Homo sapiens: one gene and its partner. The protein of the gene in region 2 purifies or fractionates together with the protein of the main gene of each other region. This does not show direct contact. Each region holds a gene or a part of one and is shown on either strand. Other genes may lie near its edges.

Region 1 (3,725 bases), on a different chromosome or scaffold from region 2:
CAGGCAGCCGTCCTCTGGAAGCCCACAGAGCTGGGCGAGGCGTGTGGGAGCAGCTCTGGTAACTGGGGGCCTCCCTGTCCCTCAGACCACTTCCACATGCAGTCGGAGTCTCTGATCGGGCCCCTGATGCAGACCATCTCCCACCAGCACTGGAAGGTCCGTGTGGCCGCCATTGAAGCCACAGGCGCAGTGATCCATTTTGGCAACGGGAAGTCCGTGGACGACGTGCTTTCCCATTTTGCTCAGCGACTGTTTGATGACGTCCCGCAGGTAACTGGTGTTTCTCCTGGACAGTCTGTTCCTCTCTCCAACACAGGCGGGCTGACGTGCTGTTTTTAACTAACTCACTTGTTCTTTTTTCAGAGTGCTGTATGCACCAAATGTCCTTTCATTATTCCTAGTCACAGGACGTTCCTGTTCACATCTTGGAAAAACTAGAAGAGAGCTGAACTGTTTTAATGTTTGATGTTATGAATTCCAAGGATGTTAGAAAGGATGACTTGTGTAGTTATTGTCTCTTAGGCACAGTGTGCACTTCAGCAGTTGCAGAAGGTTCCTTAGTGCTCCCATCCATCAAGACGCACTTTCCCGAAAAGCCACCATGGTTGGTGGACCTGGACTGGGAGAAGAGTGGAGTCGGGGTTGGTTTGTTGGGGATAATTATGTCGTTGGGCTTTGGAACCCACCAAGAGACGGGCAGGCAGGCAGGCAGGAGTCCTACAGATGGGGCTGAGTGTTGGCTTTACTGCTGGCAGAATCTGGCCTGGAGGGCATGTCTTGGATCTGAGGCCCCAGTGACTTGCTAAAATGCTACACACTGTGGCCACCGGGGAAGCTGAGTGACCTCTGATCTTTCTGTCTCTGAGTTACCTGTCATCGTAGTCAGACATGTGATCTTTTGTGTCTGGCCTCTTCACTGTGCATGGTTCCAGGTTTCAGCCTTGAAGAGGTAGGTTTCCTGATGAGAAATGGCTTGAAGGTGGTGAGTTGAAGAGTCACTCGGGGTATTCTGGGGCCAGGATGGAAGCCCTGACTCGCTCCCTCGTCTGTGCTGCTGGGGTCCACCCGTAGGGCCGGCTCCAGGTGTGACATAGCACCTGCTCAGGACACCCCTGCTTTGCCTCCATGGCCAGGCTTCATTCTCCGGCTCTCTCCCTCCAGCAGCAGAGTGGCTGCCTAGGGGCTGTGCGCAGAGACACAGGGGGACCCTTTCCCACCAGGAGCCTTTGTTCACCCCCCTTGGTCTCATCAGGCCAGCGGAAGTTGAGTCACCATGTACGCTGGCCGGCCCCTCCTGGAGCTGGCGTGGGTTCGGCACCAGGCAGCACAGAGGGCCCCTGAGGACATCAGGCTCTGCCCAGTGGGGAGAAAGTGGGCAGAGTGCGGGGTCAGTGTCCATGCTGCCCGGCACTTGCAGCAGGCACTTCTGGCACTGGCTAAATATTTGGGCTGCGGAGGGCAGTTCAAGGGGCCAGGGCAAGAACAGAGCCCAGCAAGAAGTGCAGGCGGCCGGCTGGTTTTTCTCTCCCACCTTCCTTAAGCCTGAGGCAGAGCATGGCCCACAAGGAAAGTGGAGTCTGTGTCATGGGCCAAGTCTTACTCCTCAAAACAGTGTGATGACTCTGTATGGAGAGCTCTGTGTGAATACTGAAGCTCCATAGCTGATAGCTGTCGGTGTAAGCCTACTGTCACTGTCTAAAAATAACCATCACTGTCTAAAAATACCGTCACTGTCTAAAAATACCATCACTGTATCGATAGCTGTCTGTAAATACTGGAACTCTGTGGAGCACGCTCTGTAAATACTGGAACTCTATTGCTAGCTGTAAACGGTGTAACTCAGTATAACTATACCGTAACTCTAAAAATACCATAACTATGTGTCGACAGCTGCCTATAAATGCTATAACTGTATTGGTAGCTATGTATAAGCAGCCTACTCTGTATCAATAGCTGTCTGTTAGAAAGCTGACATCACATTGTTGATCTAAAGCAAGCTTGTCCAACCTGCGGCCCGTGGGCCACATGCAGCCCGGGACGGCTTTGAATGCTGCCCAACACCAATTCATAAACTTTCTTAAAATGTTACGAGATTGTTTTTGTGATTTTTTTTTTTCTTTTAGCTCGTCAGCTATCATTAGTGTTAGTGTTATTTTATGTGTGGCCCAAGACAATTCTTCCAGCATGGCCCGTTTCTTCCCAATGGGGTTTGCGTCCTATTAGAGACCCTGCACGGCCCTTCACGTGAGTTTCGTGTGGAGTCACGGTGCTGCCCCTTTTACTCTGATCAGCCCTGCGACCCCGTCCTGGAGCTCCATGTGGGCTCCTTGCAGACACCTCCACCCCCTCAACAACCCAGGGACTGGTGCCCTGGGACCCCATCCTCTCTGCACAGAAGGTCCTGACTGCCTTCTGACTCGTAGGAAACCTTCCAGCAGCCTGCTAGACTCGGCTTAAATCACTGAACTTCACTGGAAGGGCCTGGAAATAACTTCATCTCCTCCTTACAAGGCTCAGAGGCCTCAGAGCTCACTCAGGTAGCACAGCCAGGTGAGCCTCAGAGCAAGGTCAGGACACAGGCGGTCTAGCCGCCCTGGAGCCTTAGGCCCCGGGATGGTGTCTGAAGTTGTGGAAAGGGGGTGTCCCAGTGCGGCAGGGGCTAATGCATCTCCCCACGCTCACATGACTGCAGCTCCGAGCCCAGGACACTGACCACACCCAGAACCCCGGCGAGGCAGGCAGGACGGACGTATGGCCGTGCAGTTGTGAAGCAGGCCTTGAACAAACTGCCCTGTGCCGCCCTCAGGTGGGTGACTCATGGACTTCGCCCTGCAGGGGTGCCCTGGTTGTCGCCAGGCCTGCAGTCGGCAGCTGCTCAGCTTTGCTGCAGTTTTCCTGCTCGATGTGTGCTGCTGGTGAGGCCACCAGGCCTGTTCTTGTCAAGAGAGACCTTCCGGGAGCAACAGATGTTACAGGAGAGACTGGGGATGCATGGACAGCTTTTCAGAGATGAGTGTTTGTCACGTTCCTGCCAAGTACCTGTTTGCCATTTGTATGCCTTCTTTTGAGAAATGTCTATTCAGATCTGTCCATTTTTAAATCGCGTTATTAGATTTTTTTCTATTGAGTTTGAGCTCCTTATGGATTCTGGTTGTCAGTCCCTTGTCAGATGGGTATTTGTGCAGCTGTTTGCTCCCATCCTGTGGGTTGTCTCCTCACTATTGATTGTTTTATTTGCTGTGCAGAAGCTTTTTAACTTGATGTGATCCCATTTGCCCAGGCCATGTCCCAGAGAGTTTCCCCAATGTTTTCTTTTAGTGGTTTCATAGTTTGAGGTCTTAGATTGAGGTCTTTAATCTATTTTGATTTGATTTTTGTACATGGTGAGAGATAGGGGTCCAGTTTCATTTTTCTGCATATGGAGTTCCAGTTTTCCCAGCACCATTTATTGAAGAAACTGTCCTCTCCCCAAGATATGTCCTTGGCACCTTTGTCAAAATAAGTTCACTGTAAATGTATGGATTTAATTTCTGGCTTCTCTATTCTGTTCCATTGGTCTGTGTGTCTGTTTTTATGCCAGTGCCAAGCTGTTCTGGTCGCTGTAGCTCTGTAGTATAAATTGAAGTCAGGTAATGTGATCCCTCCAGTTTTTTGTTTGTTTTTGTCTTGTTTTGTTTTTTGCTCAGGATGGCTTTGGCTATTCAACGTCTTTCGAGGTTCCATAT
Region 2 (3,500 bases):
CCGGGGATCCCACCGGGTGAATGATCAGAGTTTGTTTGTTTGTTTGTTTGTTTTTTGAGGAGTCTTGCTCTGTTGCCAGGCTGGAGTGCAGTGGTGCGATCTTGGCTCACTGCAACCTACGCCTCCCGAGTTCAAGCAATTCTCCTGCCTCAGCCTCCCAAGTAGCTGGGACTACAGGCGCCCACCACCATGTCCAGCTAATTTTTGTATTTTTAGTAGAGATGGGGTTTCACCATGTTGGCCAGGATGGTGTCGATCTCTTGACCTTGTGATCCACCTGCCTCAGCCTCCCTAAGTGCTGGGATGACAGGCGTGAGCCGCCATGCCCGGCCAGAGTTTCTAGGGAATAGAAGAGAGGGCAGATACAGACCCCAGGGACATTAGTGAAGCCATTCAGCAGTTGTGGCCAGTGGCCAATGTGAGTGCCCAAGAGCCAAGAACTGGTCTTCCAGGCTAGAAGGACAAACGACAGGCTGGCTCCCTTGGTCTTGGGGTGGCTGTCTGGCAGGCAACAGCTGCTTTGCTCAGTTGGCTCAAACATGTGACAGCTTCCTACTTCAGTCGGTCTTCCAGCCTTCTATAAAGCACACTTGGCAGTCCCCTGGGTACAGAGAGGAATGTTTTTCCCAGGTTGCTTTCTCCTTTATTGACAGGCATGAGACACAGGCAGGCCCAGGCACAGGAAGCCCCATGGAACCTGCCAGGTTGCAGCTGGGTCCAATCCCGCCGGCCATGCTGGGTGACTGCAGGCCCAGCCCACCCACCACGTGTGGACCCAGACACCTCCATGACACCAAGGGCAAAGCACCAGTTCCAGGGTGGCCTCCCCTTGGCTCTTGGGGTGGGGACACCCAGCAGCTGGCACTCAGTTGGGGGGTTATGTTTGCAGAATCACATCACCATATAATCAAAGCACTGTCAGGCAGAACTTGACCCACGGCCTCAGCCCCAGGGTGCTCAATGCAGACTGTGCAGGTGACCCTCTGAAACTACCCAAGGACTCAGCCAAAGTGTGGTCTGGCCCCTTGCTCCTGGAGCCCTTCAGCACATCCAGGGACCACCATCAAGACAGGCACTGCAGGGCGCAGAGCCAACGTGCTGACCAACTCAGAAGCAGAAGCTTAGGAACCAGAGCCCCAAGCCACCCCGATGCTGGCGGGGCCAACTCCAGGCGCCGTGCCTGCACAGCACCACACAACAACCTTTGCTAAGTGGGTCCCTTCCTTGGACCCAGACACTCTCAGTGACTCTGCTCAGGAGGCAGCGCCACCATGCTCTGGAGAAGAGGAGGCCGCCAGAGCCCGGGTGGTTTTAGTGGGTCTTTCCCTGAGGCAGAAACTCCAAGGCCAGGGACAATGTGACCGAAGGGGAGACAACTCTATGGACACTGTCCAGGGATCAAAGATGGTCAGCGTGCACCCTTAGGGTACGTTTAGCGAGCTGGGCTCCATCTCTGCCGCTCCCAGGTGCGGGTCCCGCGTCGCTGTCCAGGCCCCTCATTGCTGACACTCCCCTGGCTTCACTGGGCAGAGTCCACCGGCCCCCCAGCCCTGGGTGTGGCTGGCCCCTCCCTACCTCCCATGTAGCTCCCAGGCCTTTACGAAGCAAATCTCCATCCTCCATCTCCACTCTTGGAAAATGCAGCTGCCCTGCACACCCACAGCCCCGCCCCCGCCCCACCACGGAGGCCTATGGACGCCACCACGACACCACATGGCAGTTACTCGGTATCTGGGCCCTGGACGCGCAAGACCCCGGAGGCCACAAACGGTACAGGAACACAGCCAGGAGTCACGCTGCACACCCCCACCCGTACCTGAGGCAGACTGGGATTGAAATTTTATTTTTAAAAGGTAAAGCTGTTTTATTAAACGTCTTTTAAGGACTGGGAGTATGACATAACAAACTTGAGCAACATGTGTAAACACGTGTGAAATGCGGTTTGATTTCAGTAGTTTATTTTGGAGACAAAGCAGTGCAAGAGGCCAGCCACGCTTTCCTGTTCCCCAGGGCTCAGGGTCAGAACTAGGAAAGGTGACGTACAGACATTAATCGGGGTTCAAAACTCAAGTCGTGTAAACGTGGTTAGTTGTTGGGTCCTCAGTTTCCAAAAAAGCCGGGCAGTTCTGATGGCCTCTGCCCCTCGCCCAAGCCCTGTGCCTCCCTCCTCAAAGTGGGCATCCTGCAGCCCAGCTGAGCCAGGCCGAAGGACCTCCATGCACTGGCTCGGGGGCCTCTCTCGGGACACTCAGCACTTTCTCTAGCGTCCTCCATCTCACTGGGCAGAGGACAGCCCGGAAGCCTTTTTCACTTTTTCAAAGTAAACTGCTATCTTAAGACACAAAAACATACTTGTGGGGGCTGATGCCTCTCACCCAGCACCCCACATCTTCCAGGACTGCAGAGGCTTCTCCCCAACCCTTTTCTCTGCAGAGGGGGCTGCCTGGATCAGGGGTCAGACGGCAGAGCCAGTGCTTTGCTGCCAAGGTGATGGGGTGAGTCTGAGGTGTGCAGAAGCGATGGGGGGCGGGTGGCTCCCTGGCACCTGCTGGCTCAGTGCTTGGGGCTTGCAATGAGAGGTGGACCAGGCCTGCTGGGTGAGGAGGGACCCAGCAGGTGTGAAAAGGAGTGAACCCACTGGGAAGAGGGCCCCGATCTCCATGGTGTCATGCCGAGGCTCCCGCGCCTATCCTCACCTAGGTGACTTTATGGAAAGGCAGGCTGCATCCCAGGGGTTAGGGCACAAAGCCAGCCCTGTGGTGCTCTCTGATCTCAAATGTCCACTAGAGACAAGGGGGTGGAGGCCCAAAGACCTGGAATGATTTGCCCAAATCACAGCACAAATCCTCAGCACAGGCGCCATCGGCTCGGGCCTCCAGCCAGGCAGCCTCCTTCCCGGGCTCCAGGGAGCAGCAGTGCTGGCTTAGGGGAAGGAGACCGCTGTGCAGGGCTAAATGGGACGTGTGTTGGGGGGCCCAGAGGACGCCCAGCTTCCTTTCCTTCCCTTTAGTGAGGGAGCACAGCCCAGACCCCAGCGCGGAACTCCCCTGAGGGGTCTGTGGCCTCCTCTGGCTGTGGGGAGGGAGGGGTTAGCTGCACACCAGGCAGGGTGGGGGCTAACAAAGCCTTGGTGGAGACCAGTAGGAGGAAAAACAAGGAAGGGGCAGGTCAGGGAGTGGGGAGTCAGGCAGAAGGGAAGCCACTCTCACATGCACCGATCAGCCTCCCACAGCCCGACATGGGCAGGCTTCCCCCAAGGGTCCCGGTCCACAGTGGCCATGGAGACCAACAGACAGGGATGTGCACAGACACTGGCATGGCAGCCATACGCACACCCCTCACCTCCCATCCAGACCTAGTGTTGCAAACACAAGCGTGTGTAAACTCAGTTAGGAGGTCTGCACAGTAGAGAGCAGGCGGACGGCCCCACTCCCCAACGGTGGACCACCTGGTACTCTCTTCCATCCCCCACTACCCCTCATTTAGATCATGACATCAGA

Evidence for each region. Proteins that work in one complex are often made in the same cells at the same time.
Region 1: the proteins of ITPK1 (region 2) and DNAAF5 fractionate together in Homo sapiens (co-fractionation; one large-scale study listed by BioGRID). This does not show direct contact.

What each region holds. Positions count from the first base shown.
Region 1 is NC_000007.14:729,578-733,302, forward strand, and holds part of DNAAF5 (dynein axonemal assembly factor 5), read left to right. Parts: intron 1-85; coding exon 86-270; intron 271-3,725. UniProt on the Homo sapiens protein: Cytoplasmic protein involved in the delivery of the dynein machinery to the motile cilium.
Region 2 is NC_000014.9:92,937,926-92,941,425, forward strand, and holds part of ITPK1 (inositol-tetrakisphosphate 1-kinase), read right to left. Parts: 3' UTR 602-3,500; coding exon of another isoform or gene 558-601; 3' UTR 1-557. UniProt on the Homo sapiens protein: Kinase that can phosphorylate various inositol polyphosphate such as Ins(3,4,5,6)P4 or Ins(1,3,4)P3. Phosphorylates Ins(3,4,5,6)P4 at position 1 to form Ins(1,3,4,5,6)P5.